Linked DNA regions of Homo sapiens: regions 1 and 2 are each linked to region 3. The links come from fine-mapping of genetic effects on gene expression. A gene starts in region 3. Each other region holds a variant in brackets. All regions are shown on one strand. Distances are between the middles of the regions.

Region 1 (4,243 bases), 22 kb after region 3:
CGTTAGCATGACATTATTCAAGGCTAAGTGTTACTCGAACTTCATTTGCAATTAAAGTAAACTATTTGTTACAAAAAATGAGTAACTGTAAATAGTGACTTCTGCTACACAAACTAAGTTACAGAAGCAAACCATTATTTTGTCATGTGAGTATGTATTACGTAGAGCTGAGGTGTGTGGGCGGGGGGTGCTGTTAATCTACTGGAATTCCATGTATTTTGTGAGGAGCATGGATGTTAGAGCCATACTTAATAGCCCAGAGGACATCCTCCAGGAAGACTTGTTTGTGTACCTAATCAAATACTGATATTGGTCACATTGCACATGTCCTAGTCTCTCCTCTAAATCAGTATCTTGAGAGCAGAGCCCAAGTATTATTCGCTGCTGATGGCTCTTTGCCTCCCCTGCAGTCTTACACTATTCTGGGCGTGGAGCACAGACCTAATAAAAATCTTTCGAAGTAATGAAAATGCAAAGTCCAGCCTGTAGAGGTGCCCTTAGATGTTTAAATTCTCCCAAAGAAGGGTGAACTTTTTACAAAGCACTTCACAGTGGAAGTGTCTCTGAGCACAGCAAATACCTTAAGTTTGGGCCCAAGTGGAAAAGAAATATTTGGTAGTGGGTGATTATAGCCCTTCAGTGCTCAAGGGACTCATGCATTTGCTTGCACTTCCTTATGCCTGTCCTGGAGCCATCTCTTATTTGCAATGTGACTTTGAGCAAATGCCTCTCATCTGTAAAGTGGAGATAAAACATTCCCTGCTTATCTCTTGGGGGAACTTGTATGGATTTAATGGCACAGAGGCCTTTTGTAACCTGTACAAGAACTATGCACATGGATCCTTAATTAATAGTGTTTCTGCTGGGAAAGATGGAAGGGTTTGGAGGGGAAGCTGGTGTCTACAGGAAGAGATGCAAGACATGCTAGTGGAGTTTGAGACGTTCAAATGGAATGTTCAGTAACTAATTAGCAACATAAGACTGTAGTTTGAAAAAAACAACTGCATATGCGGGTAGAGATGGTTCAGTGAAAATGTTTCATTGATTTCCTGCCATATAACAGGTATTAGTTTATTTACCGTGGCTTTTCTTTTTTTCTTTTGAGACATGGTGTCACTCTGTCGACCAGGCTGAAGTGTAGCACTGTGGACACAGCTCACTGCTGCAGTGCCCTCCTGGGCTCAGGTGATCCTCCTAAGTAGCTAGAACCACAGGTGCACCAGCACACCTAGCTAATTTTTCTGTCGTCTTTTGTAGAGACAGGGTCTCACCGTTTTGCCCAGGCTGGTCTCAAACTCCTGGCCTTAGGTGATCCTCCTTCCTCAGTCTCCCAAAGTGGTGAGATTACAGGAATGAGCCACCGTGCCCAGCCTACCATGTTTTTTTTGTTTGTTTGTCTGTTTCAGACGGAGTTTTGGTCTTGTGGCCCAGGCTGGAGTGCAGTGGCACAATCTTGGCTCACTGCAACCTCCGCCTCCCAGGTTCGAGTAATTCTCCTGCCTCAGCCTCCCAAGTAGGTGGGATTACAGGTGCCCGCCACCACGCTCAGCTAATTTTTGTATTTTTAGTAGAGATGGGGTTTCACCATGTCAGCCGTGATGGTATCGAACTCCTGAGCTCAGGTGATCCACCCACCTCGGCCTCCCAAAGTGCTGGGATTACAGGCTTGATACCATGGTTTTCAATTACTCAATTCAGTCACGTTTTGAGCTCTAAACTGAAAATGAGTTTTTCTTTTCTTGAGATTGCAGAGTCAATTACACCATGCTAGAGAACAAGTAGGCATCTATGCCTCTCTGCTCTAAATTTTGATGTCTATAAACACCCATAGCGGTGTGTGTTGGTTTTAAATTGTGGGGCTAGAAAGCCAACCCAAAATCATCAAGCTTTTATTTCTACACATTCAGAGTGCTTCTGTGTAACTTAGATTTAAAAGTAACTATACAAATAATGCATAGATGTATTTTTCTTATATAATGTTAAAATATTACGGATAAGGCCAAAGACCCCTTTTACTAATGTCCCCAAATTTCATATATGTATATATTTGTATAGAAAACAGGGCTGTGGTGTTCATGTCTTTCCCCATACTACTGTCTCCCACCTCACAGTTCCTTCTGCTACTACGGTTTCTCACTCAATAGTACAGCATGGTGATCTATTGATATTAGTATATATTCTTTATTTGCTGACATAGGAGGTCACCGGGTATATAAAGATGATAAGCATATGTCCTAGTTGGCCTAAGACAGTTCTGGTTTCATGCCTGTAGTCCCACCTTAATTTTTAATAGTGCTTCCTTTCACTCTCAGGTATGTCCCATTTTGTATAATAAATTGTACGATCACCCTATATATAAGACACATAGTTATATGAAGAATTAAGCATTTTTCATAACAGATG[T/C]ATTAGAAGTTATTGTGAACTGATTTTGAGGGGAAAAAATCTCATTTTGTACTAGAATAGAATATAGTAGAAAATCCTGAATTCTGGGTATGTAGCAGTATTCTACCAACATTGAAATATTAATAAAAAATTACCTAAAGAAAATCTTATGTATAGTTTTTCAGTGCTTCTTTTGTGTATCCCTCAGCAAAATAGATTTACTGGTGGAAGAGTAGATGATCTGACACGCGGTCGTATGAAAGCAAACACTGGTTCGGTGGTTCACCGAACACTGGTAACTAGGAAAGACACAAAATAAAATATATCTGAACGAATTCCTCTACAGCACATGCAAAATAAAGCTAATATCAGTAGCAAACTATAATAAATTTGAATAAATTCCTCTGCAAGTAGCCATTGAACATGTAAAAGAATAAATATTTAGTCAATATTGGTACAAATTATGCAGCATAATACACTAGAAAGAATTCCAGTATCAACCTTGCGAAGGCAGCAAATTTAACTATATCACAGAACACTACAGTATTCAAGAAGCAAAAAGGAAAACATTTCGGTGAATTCAAATGGAACTTGATTTTCCAGTAAGTATAGCAACATCAGTCCAAAAGCATTTGTGAAATGCATCATATATGTTTTGCTTTTCATTTTCTCCAAACCTAAAAAGCCATCTAAAATGCCTGAGTATAGGTAATTCTCCTTATACTTAGCCGTCATTGTGTTAGTGATAGAGTCGATAACAGCCTCAAACAACCTCCTTCAATTGTCCTTCACAATGTTGTGGTTATTACTTCAGTAATTTTACTGCCTCAAACCTAGTAAACAAATAACATGGCTTTGCCTCGGCCAGCCCTATTAAGAACAGAGGTTAGGAACAGGTGGCACTGCCAGCTCCCACCCCTACCCCAGGCTGCCCAAGAAACCTGTCGTTCCCCAGCTGTTGATAGAGTCCTGTGTGCCACATCAGAACTTTCCTAACTTCTGCTGTCCACCTACCTCTGATTATGCTTCATGTACCTCCCCAACTTCCCTGCCAGTCTCCCAGGCATAGGCATGACTCATCTACCAGCAAAGGTGAAATCTGAGTTGGTAGATCTAACGCCTGGACTGCCTTTCCATTCCCCACCCTGGACACACATTCAGGGCACAACTGGCGCCAAGGAAGGAGGCTCAGTATGTGAGCTGGGTGGCGCCTGGCCTAGAGCTTGCCTTTGTAAGAACACTAGATGATTGCTACTTTCTCAAACAACGATGGCATAGAATATGTCTTATTTATGGCCATCAGATAAGGTAGATATACCTAGTTCTTAACAGCTGAACAGCATTCCATAGTGTAAATGTACCATGGTAGATTAAGGCATTTCCTTATTGGTGTTTATTCCGTTTGTTTCTAGCTTGCCACCTTATCAGACAGCACAGGCATGGATGCTCTTATATATATATATCTCCTTACATCCACGTTGAAATGAGCTGCTAGGATAGACATCCAGAAGTGGAATTAGAATTTTAATAGGGACTACTGTATCAGACATGCATTCAGCTGCGCATTTAAAAATTATTAACAGTGCCTTGAACAGTAGTTTGTTGTTTTCATGTAACAAGGGGTCCGGAAGTAGGCATACGTGGGATGACGCAGCTCAGTGGTAACATCAGGGACTGGCCCCATCTTTCGGCTCTGTTGGATCCTCATTCTAATGATTCTCACCGCGTGATTCTGAGAAGGTGGCTGCACCCTCAGGCATTATTACAGGCAAGAAGAAAAGGGAAGATAAACAAGGCCAAAGGGAAATGCCAGCTGGGTCTATTTCTTTTAAAAAGCCTTCCTGAAAGCCGACTCCAATTT
Region 2 (4,243 bases), 90 kb after region 3:
GGTCAAAGCCAGCCCAGGATGACAAAGGGGGTCAGACTTGGCCAGCACCTGAGTCTTATCACCAAGAAGGGACAAGTCAAGCCCACCTGCCGAGCAGCCCAGCCTCCACTCAGCCTTACCAGCCCCCGGGCTCCTTGGAGACATTGTGGATGAGGGCACCACGGCAGAAGCTCAGCTCATCGCTTCGCTTGGCTTTGTAGTCATACAGAGCTTTCACGGTTCTCTGAGGCTTTCAGGGAAAACAAGAAGGAAAAGGTCAGGCCAGGGACAGGAGGGGAGGGAGGCGGCTGCGTTCCCAGGTACCATTTGGTTCTTCTCATTGGGGAGCAGGAGGCTTCAGGCCAAGGTTACAAAGTCATCTGCTGGAGAGGGACTGGCATTGCAAAGGATCGAAGGCCCCAAAAAGCCACCAGGGAGTGAAGGAGAACTGGCCTAGTCAGAGCCAAGGGTACCTGGGTTGGGGTTAAGGGTTAGGGGTTAGGAGTTAGGGTTTGGGGCTAGGGTTTAGCGCTGGGGTTAGGGTTAGGCTTAGGGTTAGGGTGGGAGTGACCCTATATTGTAGTGACACAATATTGCTCAATTTCCTCAACAAAGAAAGGACATGCCTTTTAGATTAAGCCAAGACTGTCATCACAGTGCCGGTGCTCAGCAAGCCTCCCAGAAGCTCAAGGGCAACCCCATTCTTCCTGCCTGTCCTGAGGGCCTCATTGCTCTGTTTTTGTAGGTCAGCAGTCCCCTATCTACACTCCTGCAGGACCCTGACATTTTGCAAGAGTAACTGAGCTTCTCCTCCATGAAATTCATCAAAAGGTGGTCTCTGTTCACAGAACTAAATAAGATAGAACTTCCTTGGTTAGAAATTTTCTTCAATGAATTTGCTTTCATGCTTTCTGCCTGGCGGGCATAAATGAACACCCACACGGCAAGCAAATGTTAGTGGGAAAAGCTCTGACGTTGTCAAACCTGTTTAAATGAGCAGCTTCCTTCTCCTCCCACCCAAAGGAAATGGGAACAGGAATTTCACAGGGAACCTAGTAAAATTTTTCCTCAGAACACAGGCTACAGAGTCAGATATGTAGGTTCAAATCATTGCTCTGCCCTTGAATAATGATATAAGTTTGAGTCTCTCTGATCCTCAGTTCCCCCGTCTGTGAAATGGGAATTAAATTTTTATATATTTCACAGGGTTGTTAAGACTACTAAATGAGATCATGTGTATAATGATAAAACTGACAACAGCTTGCACTTCTTAAGTGCTAACTATAGTATCGCTAAAGCATTATTCCAAGCCTTAAGGTATCTCCTTTAATCCTTAAGCAACCATAACAGGTAAGTAGTTATATGAGTATGCCCATTTTGCAGATGAGAAAACTGAGATGCAGAGAGAGAAAGTAATTTGCCCCACATCGACCAGCTGTTTTAAGTGGCTCAGCCCAGAACTGGATCCATCAATGTGAGTTAGTGCCATAGTGCATGATGTTTCATAAGAAGCAATGTGGGTTCTAGGAGCTCTGCCACAGGGATCTGCAGCTGGAGGCCAGAGGCTAAGCAGTACCCTTGCCTTTCTCTCCCCCACCTGCAAACAGAGCAGCCTCTACTTGCGTATCCTGCTTCAAGGGTGGATATAAGGACCAGCCAGTCTCCAAGGCCACAGGAAGGAAAAGTCATCAGTTAGAGAGGTGACTGTTCTCATCGCCAAAACATCCTTCACTACTAACAAAAGTTTTTGCTACTAAGGTCTCTTAATGCATTTCACACACAGCTCAATTTGCCCACAACTTTTCAAGATTTCATTTCTTTCTGAAACAGATCTGCATTGGCCATGGATTATAAATTTTTGAAAAAGAAAGTCATCTCTGGATTTCAACAGAGCCCACAAGCAGGGCCCCTTCCTAAGTGAGCGTTGTACACTAATTGTGTGCCACATGGCCCCCAAACAGAAAATTCGCTGTGGTTCTTCCTCTGCCGGCTCAAACTAAATTTGAGATGAAAGCATGGCAAGGAGGAGCCGAGGGCTGAAAGTAAAATCCATCCCTACCTGCATGAAATTACACAACAGAGTCAGGGTGGGAATATGAGA[T/C]AGCATTTGCACTGCAAGGAGGTCAGTGAACCAAATGGAATTTATAAACACCACAGGCTCTGTCAGCGAGCCAAAAACATTTGAAAGACTTTTCATTAGAAGCCATTTGGCCCAAAGGTGGTTCGTCAAACCTCAGAATTTTAGCAAAACACTGTTGCATTTGGATGGAATTCTATTAACATTTTCCCTGAAACTAGGCTTGATATTATCAATCATCCTTTCTTCTCAAAAAAAAAAAAAAATTATTTTGGCCAGGTTTTCCAAAGTCTTCCCTTGCCCTGTTATAACTGCCATGGGAACAAGATGGAATCCACATCAGCCTCGTGACTCCAAAATCATGTGAATTGGAGGTTCGGCACCGTACCATGGACGGATTGATTTCACTGGGATCCACATACATTCTGCTGACGTCGTAGAGGGAGTTTATATCTCTTTCCTGGAAAAAAAAAGAAAGAAAGAAATGGAATAATCCATGCTCCTGGAATAGCCCTTACATATAACAAGGGTTCTAGGCTTCCTTATGGTTACCTATCCTTTGATAGAGGAGTTGAAACCTCATAGAATTTTCTTTTGGCCCATGAGTAGACACAGGAAGAAGCTATAAAGAAGGTCCCCAGACTTGGAAACTAACCCAAAATCAGAGAGGCCCTGTCCTGGCCTGCTGCGTGCCAGGCACTGCGTTCCTTTGTAAAAGCACAAATCCTAAGATGCGATGGTGTGCTGGAGTGACCTCCCGGCTCACAAAAGCCCACTGTGTACATCACTTCCTGACTCCACGTTCCAGGTTCAACGACAGCACATCAACAACTTGAAACTGACCTCCATGGAAGTATTTACACCATGGAAACTGGCAAATGCTACAAACCAGTGCCTTCCCCCTACCCCGCTGAGAGCTGTTTGAACATTTACTAGCACACCACTGACAAGATCCACCCCCACCACCTCTCTGTTCCTCTCTAACTCTTCTTTCTGTTCCTCATGTCACCTTAGGGCTTGTGATGTGGCCACTCCTGTACCTAGAGTCACCCCTTCATTCACTTCTCCCCAGATCCCATTCACTGCTATCTTCCATGTTTCGGCTCACATTTCTCCCCTTTTAAGGTGGCCTTCTCTGATCTCCACTCCCACAGCCTAAGGTAGTGTCCACCCCTTTTCACACTATCCTGTTTTCTTTGCTTTATTATATTTCATGCTACCTGAAAACATCTTAATTGTGTATATTATCTGTCTCTCCTCTCCAGAACCTAAATTTCCCAAAGCAGATTTTGTTCCACAGTACTCCTAGTATCTAGAACAGTCCTTGGCACATGATCGGGATGCCATAAATCTCTCTTCAATAAATTAATGATCTATGTGGTAGGAATGGAGACAAAGTAACCACATCAGGTCTCTCCTGCACCCAGAACTCTCCAATGACTCAGAGAAAAAGCCAGGGCCTTACAATGGCCTATGAGCCCCTGCATGATAAGTCACCTGTGAACCCTCATCCTTATTTAGCTCTACCCCCACCTGGGCTGGCTTGATTCCGGCCATGCTGACTTCCTCTTGGTGCCTCCAGGCAGGCTTCTACCTCAGGACCTTTGCGCATGCTATCCTCTCTTCCTCCAGAACATACCCACATGGCTCATTCCTTTTCAGTGAGATCTTCCTAGACCACCCTCTGAAAACTTCAACCCCTTCCCCATCACTCTGTATCCTCTTATCCACCTGCCCAGTGTTTTTCTCCATAGCACTCATCACCATCTGGCACATGCTATGGATATTTTAAATGTCATTTGTTGCATCTCCCCAACACTACACTATAAGCAGCACAACGGCAGGGTCTTTGTTGTGCTCAATTTGTATCCCCAGGACCTACAGCAGTATCAGATACATGGTGAATACTCAGAGGTTTGCTGAATTCATGAACAGATGAGTTACAACCTCAGACAAGAAATCCCACCAAATCACAAGGGAGTCCACCACCTACCATATTGTAGCGCTCCAGGAGCTCGGGGGTCACGGGGTAGCGCAGTCTCATCTTTCGGTAGAGTGAATGCTTCTCGTAGTAACTGACGAGCTCCACCAGACTCTCAAAATAGGCGGAGGTCCCCAGCACAAAGTGCCGGCCGTCCCGGTTGATGCGACAATGCTTTACCTTGCCCCTAGCCCTGGAGCAGGAAG
Region 3 (4,243 bases):
ACTATTACAAGGTTTCTCTTACCCACCTCAGAGAGTTGTAGTGCTACTACTACTAAGTCATAGCACTTTTAGGGCAGTGCTTATCAGCCTTTACTATACATAGGAATTACCTAGGGATTTTGCTGAATACAGATTTGTATTTATTAAGCCTAGAATGGGATCCAAGACCCAACATTTCTAATAAGCTCTCAGGTGATGTTGATGTTACTGATCCACACTTTTGGATAGCAAAGTTCTCATGTGCCTACCAAGCTCACAATAATTTCCGTTCTTTAGAAATGACCACAGTTTATAGCAGTTCTTGTGTCCTTTTGCCACAGCTGACAATGGTAGAGGTGATTTCTGATCCAAGCTGGGCCAAAAGAAGGTGTCGTTTGCAAGCCTGGGATTTTGAACAGGGACAACCAGAAATGTGACATATATTCATTTGCTGATTCATTCACCAGTAAAAAAAAAAAAAAAAAAAAAAAAAAAATTCTGTCTCTATGCCAGACACTATAGTAGGTAGTGGAGATACACCAATCAATCAAGCAGGTCTCTGCACTCACGGAGCTTTCATTATAGCAACATGCAAGATAATTTCAGATGAGCTAAGTGCTGTGAAGAGATTGAAGAATTTCAAGGGGATGCAGGAGACTTTAAGTGAAAGTGTTGGGGAAAGCCAAGCTCTTACTTCCTCTTCTGTAGTGACCTTGGCAGCCAAGAGTTGAACATGATGGCATAACAAATGGGGGAAGCCTGGGTCCCTGAGTGATTATGTGGAGCACAGCACTCTTCCCCTTCCCTGCAGACTGAATTGGACTGTGATCGGAGTGAGAAATAAAATACTGCACACCTGTGAGTAATTGTGACAGCAAACTGATCTTTCTGAGATGCATCCACTGCCTGGACATATTATTGGGGGAAGACAATACTAAACAAACACTGATATACAAACTCACATTGAAGTTAATTTCTTTCTCCAGTCATTTCTGTCTTAGATCTCTTGGTCAGACCTTTATAAAATCAACTCACTAAATTATGATGGAAGCTAAGGAAGCAATTATAGAGTTTGTAATTTTCCTTTAAAACACGCCTGATTATATTTTAAAAGAGTCCTCGGTGGCACAAGAATACTAACATTTAAATTCACCATTTCTCATGTTTATCCACACACTCTAAATCTGGGTATCCCTCAGAGGATCCTGTAATTCCCCAAAGGAAGTCTGTCTTCTTTACTGCATCCTCAGTGGGTCTTTTCTTCCTTAGCTGCTGGCCTCAAGAGCATATAGCTGGTCTCTCAGCCCCCTGAATACCCTTCCTCTTCTCTTCTAATTTTTATGTATCCTAAGCAGCCACTGCAAAGCTGTTCTTTAAGACTGCTTAGCACAAGAAGTCTCCTGTGACTTATGCCTGCCTAATAGGTGAGGACAAGACAGGCAGGAAAGCCAGAGCATCCTATGAGAGAGGCCAGTGCCAGGGACTGGCACTTCTTGATTTCTTCACCTGGGCTTCATTAATTTTTATATCCTAGGACTTGAGCTTTGTCCTTGTGACTGTGTGTGCTTAGTGAAAACTGAGCAGTAAATCAGGCAATTGATATGAACCTCTCTGAGTCTGCCTTTGGTACCAGATCTATCGGCAAGAGCACCACATGAAGTCAAAACTTCCATCCTCCAAGACACTAAAATGAAATCCTCCCCAGCCAGGGGTCCATTCCAGGATGCATGTCCATACACGTGTACAGTCTGCAACCATCCACAGAACCACACTCATGATGAGGAGACAAAAGATGGGCCTCAAAAGGAGACCTCTGAGTGAGGATGCCAACTTTCCTTTCTGCATTCCTTGGTTCCTTCAGCAACAAAGATTAGTCTTGGCATCACTGCCTGCTTGGCGACCAGAACAAAGAGAAATAAGGAAAATTAGGGACACAGGAAAACCTATGGGCACACATAGATATGGAAACTCAGAGATAATAGAAACTTAAAGAGATACATGGAGAGTGAATATTCTGCCTCCCTATAGAGCCTTTTCCATCATCCATCCACCCAAGCAATGCTGACCTGAGTGCCTATTTATCAGGCACTGGTCTTGGCCTTGGGGATAAACAAAGATGGAGGTGAAAGTCTAAAAGCAGACACTGGAGGTGGGAAGAGCAGTTGACGTGGCCCTAACAGGGTTCCCACCACGGCGGAACGCACAGACAGGGGACGTGGGGGAAGACGTGACCCTAAAAGGGTTCCCGCCACGGCGGAACGCACAGCCAGAGAACGTGGGGGAATTCATGAAGCGAACCTCCTGCTACCTCAACGCCGGTGAAGGTGAAGGAGACACCTGCGCGTCATAGAGACTCCGAGACCTCCAGGCTTCCTAGAGAGGCCCGGAAGTGGCTCCAGGAGGCAGGTCCGACGGCTTCGGCGCCCCAGCTGTGGTGATGGGTAGCTAGGAGGCCTGGGCCTCTCTGCCTGCTGTAGCCGTCTGCCGCGCCCTTGTTCCTGCAGCTGTGAGTGGGCCTGGGCTGGGGTTGGGGGGCCGCCGCCCTTCCGCGGGGACCCTGGACCGCCTCGGCCTGGAACGCGACAGGTGGCGGTCCCGGGGGTGGGGGACGGTGGTGAATGACTGAGCAGGGTGGCGGGAAGGAGTATCCCCTTTCAGATGTCTTCCTGATCCCAGGGGACCGGGCGCAGCTTGGCTTTCTAGAATGTCGCCAAGGCCTCAAACACTGGCCCTCCGCATTTTTTGTTTTTAAGGACATCGGGGCCCCAAGCTCCGAACTTTCCACAGGTGGCTGGCTATACTTGATTCCTGTCTTTGATTTTCTGCACACTTTGGGAGAACGATTACCTCCTCTTTATCACTTGGTTCTGGTTTGCCACTTAAAAGTGGCAGTGACAGGTTCCCATTTAAACTGCATGTATTTGTTGGGAAAAGGTAAGTAGGTTTAAACAAAACCTTATAGGCTAGTCATAATACCAGATGAATCAGATGTGACAGAAATTGTGGAGGTGGAGTGAGCCCTGAAAATCTGAGACGGGTCTCAGTTCATTTAGAAAGTTTATTTTGCCAAGGTTGAAGACATGTACCCATGACACAGCCTCAGGCGGTCCTGACGATGTATTCTTAATGTGGTCAGAGCCCAGTTTCGTTTTCTACATTTTAGGGAGACATGAGACAAGAACAGATGTAAGATGAACATGTTTTTCGGTCTGGAAAGGCGGGACAACTCGAAACGGGGAGGGGGCTTCCAGGTCATAGGTAGGTAAGAGACAAATGGTTGCATTATTTTGAGTTTGATTAGCCTCTCCAAAGGAAGCAATCAGATATGCCTTTATTTTAGTGAGCAGAGATACATGAATAGAATGGGAGGCAGGTTTGCCCTAAGCAGTTCTCAGCTTGACTTTTCCCTTTAGCTTAGTGATCTTGGGACCCCAAGATTTATTTTCCTTTCACAGTGATAAGATAATGACCTAAGCGAATCTGTATTGTCCCAGCCTTATTGTGCGGCATTACATGTAGTGGTTAAGAGTCATACAGACCCGGCTTCAAGTCCTGAACCCTGCCCAACCCCTTATGACCTGCATAATTTGTGGGCAAGGTTCCTAACCTCTGATCTATTTTCCTCATTTCTGAAAGCTGATGATAATACTAGTAACAACTTCGGAAGATTGTCCTGAGGCTTAAATGCTAAACCTTTAAACTACCTGTATTAATCCATTCTCATGCTGCTAATAAAAACATACCCAAGACTGGGTAATTTATAAAGTTAAGAGGTTTGATGGACTCACAGTTCCACATGGCTGGGGAAGCCTCATAATCATGCCAGAAGGCAAAAGAGGAGCAAAGTCACATCTTACGTCTTATATGGTGGCAGGCAAGAGAGCTTGTGTAGGGGAACTCCCCTTTATAAAACCATCAGATCTTTTGAGACTTATTCACTATCAAGAGAACGGCATGGGAAAAACCCACCCCTGTGATTCAGTTACCTCCCACTGGGTCCCTCCCAGGACACGTGGTAATTATGGGATCTACAATTCAAGGTGAGATTTGGGTGGAGACACAGCCAAACCATATCATTCCGCCCCTGGCCCCTCCCAAATCTCATGCCCTCACATTTCAAAACCAATCATGCCTTCCCAACAGTCCCACAAAGTCTTAACTCATTTTAGCATTAACTCAAAAGTCCACACTCCAAAGTCTCATCTGAGGCAAGGCAAGCCCCTTCCACCTATAAGCCTGTAAAATCAAAAGCAAGTTAGTTACT

Evidence for each region. PIP is the estimated chance that this variant, and not a neighbour inherited with it, causes the effect.
Region 1: its variant is the best candidate, but not a certain one, in a credible set for the expression of SDR42E1 in whole blood (TOPMed, PIP 0.50).
Region 2: its variant is the best candidate, but not a certain one, in a credible set for the expression of SDR42E1 in gastroesophageal junction (GTEx, PIP 0.64).

The regions. Positions count from the first base shown.
Region 1 is chr16:81,987,159-81,991,401 of GRCh38, reverse strand. It overlaps SDR42E1 (short chain dehydrogenase/reductase family 42E, member 1), which reads left to right. Exons shown (of 3, transcript NM_145168.3): 3 at 1-2,547. Among named protein-coding and RNA genes, the nearest start is that of SDR42E1, 22 kb to the left of the region's middle. The variant T/C (reference allele first, on the strand shown) is at 2,404.
Region 2 is chr16:81,919,471-81,923,713 of GRCh38, reverse strand. It overlaps PLCG2 (phospholipase C gamma 2), which reads right to left. Exons shown (of 33, transcript NM_002661.5): 20 at 4,050-4,230; 21 at 2,445-2,516; 22 at 120-229. Among named protein-coding and RNA genes, the nearest start is that of SDR42E1, 90 kb to the left of the region's middle. The variant T/C (reference allele first, on the strand shown) is at 2,081.
Region 3 is chr16:82,009,629-82,013,871 of GRCh38, reverse strand. It overlaps SDR42E1 (short chain dehydrogenase/reductase family 42E, member 1), which reads left to right and starts at 2,402. Exons shown (of 3, transcript NM_145168.3): 1 at 2,402-2,485. RefSeq lists enhancers at 2,058-2,137, 2,148-2,237 and a silencer at 2,478-2,627.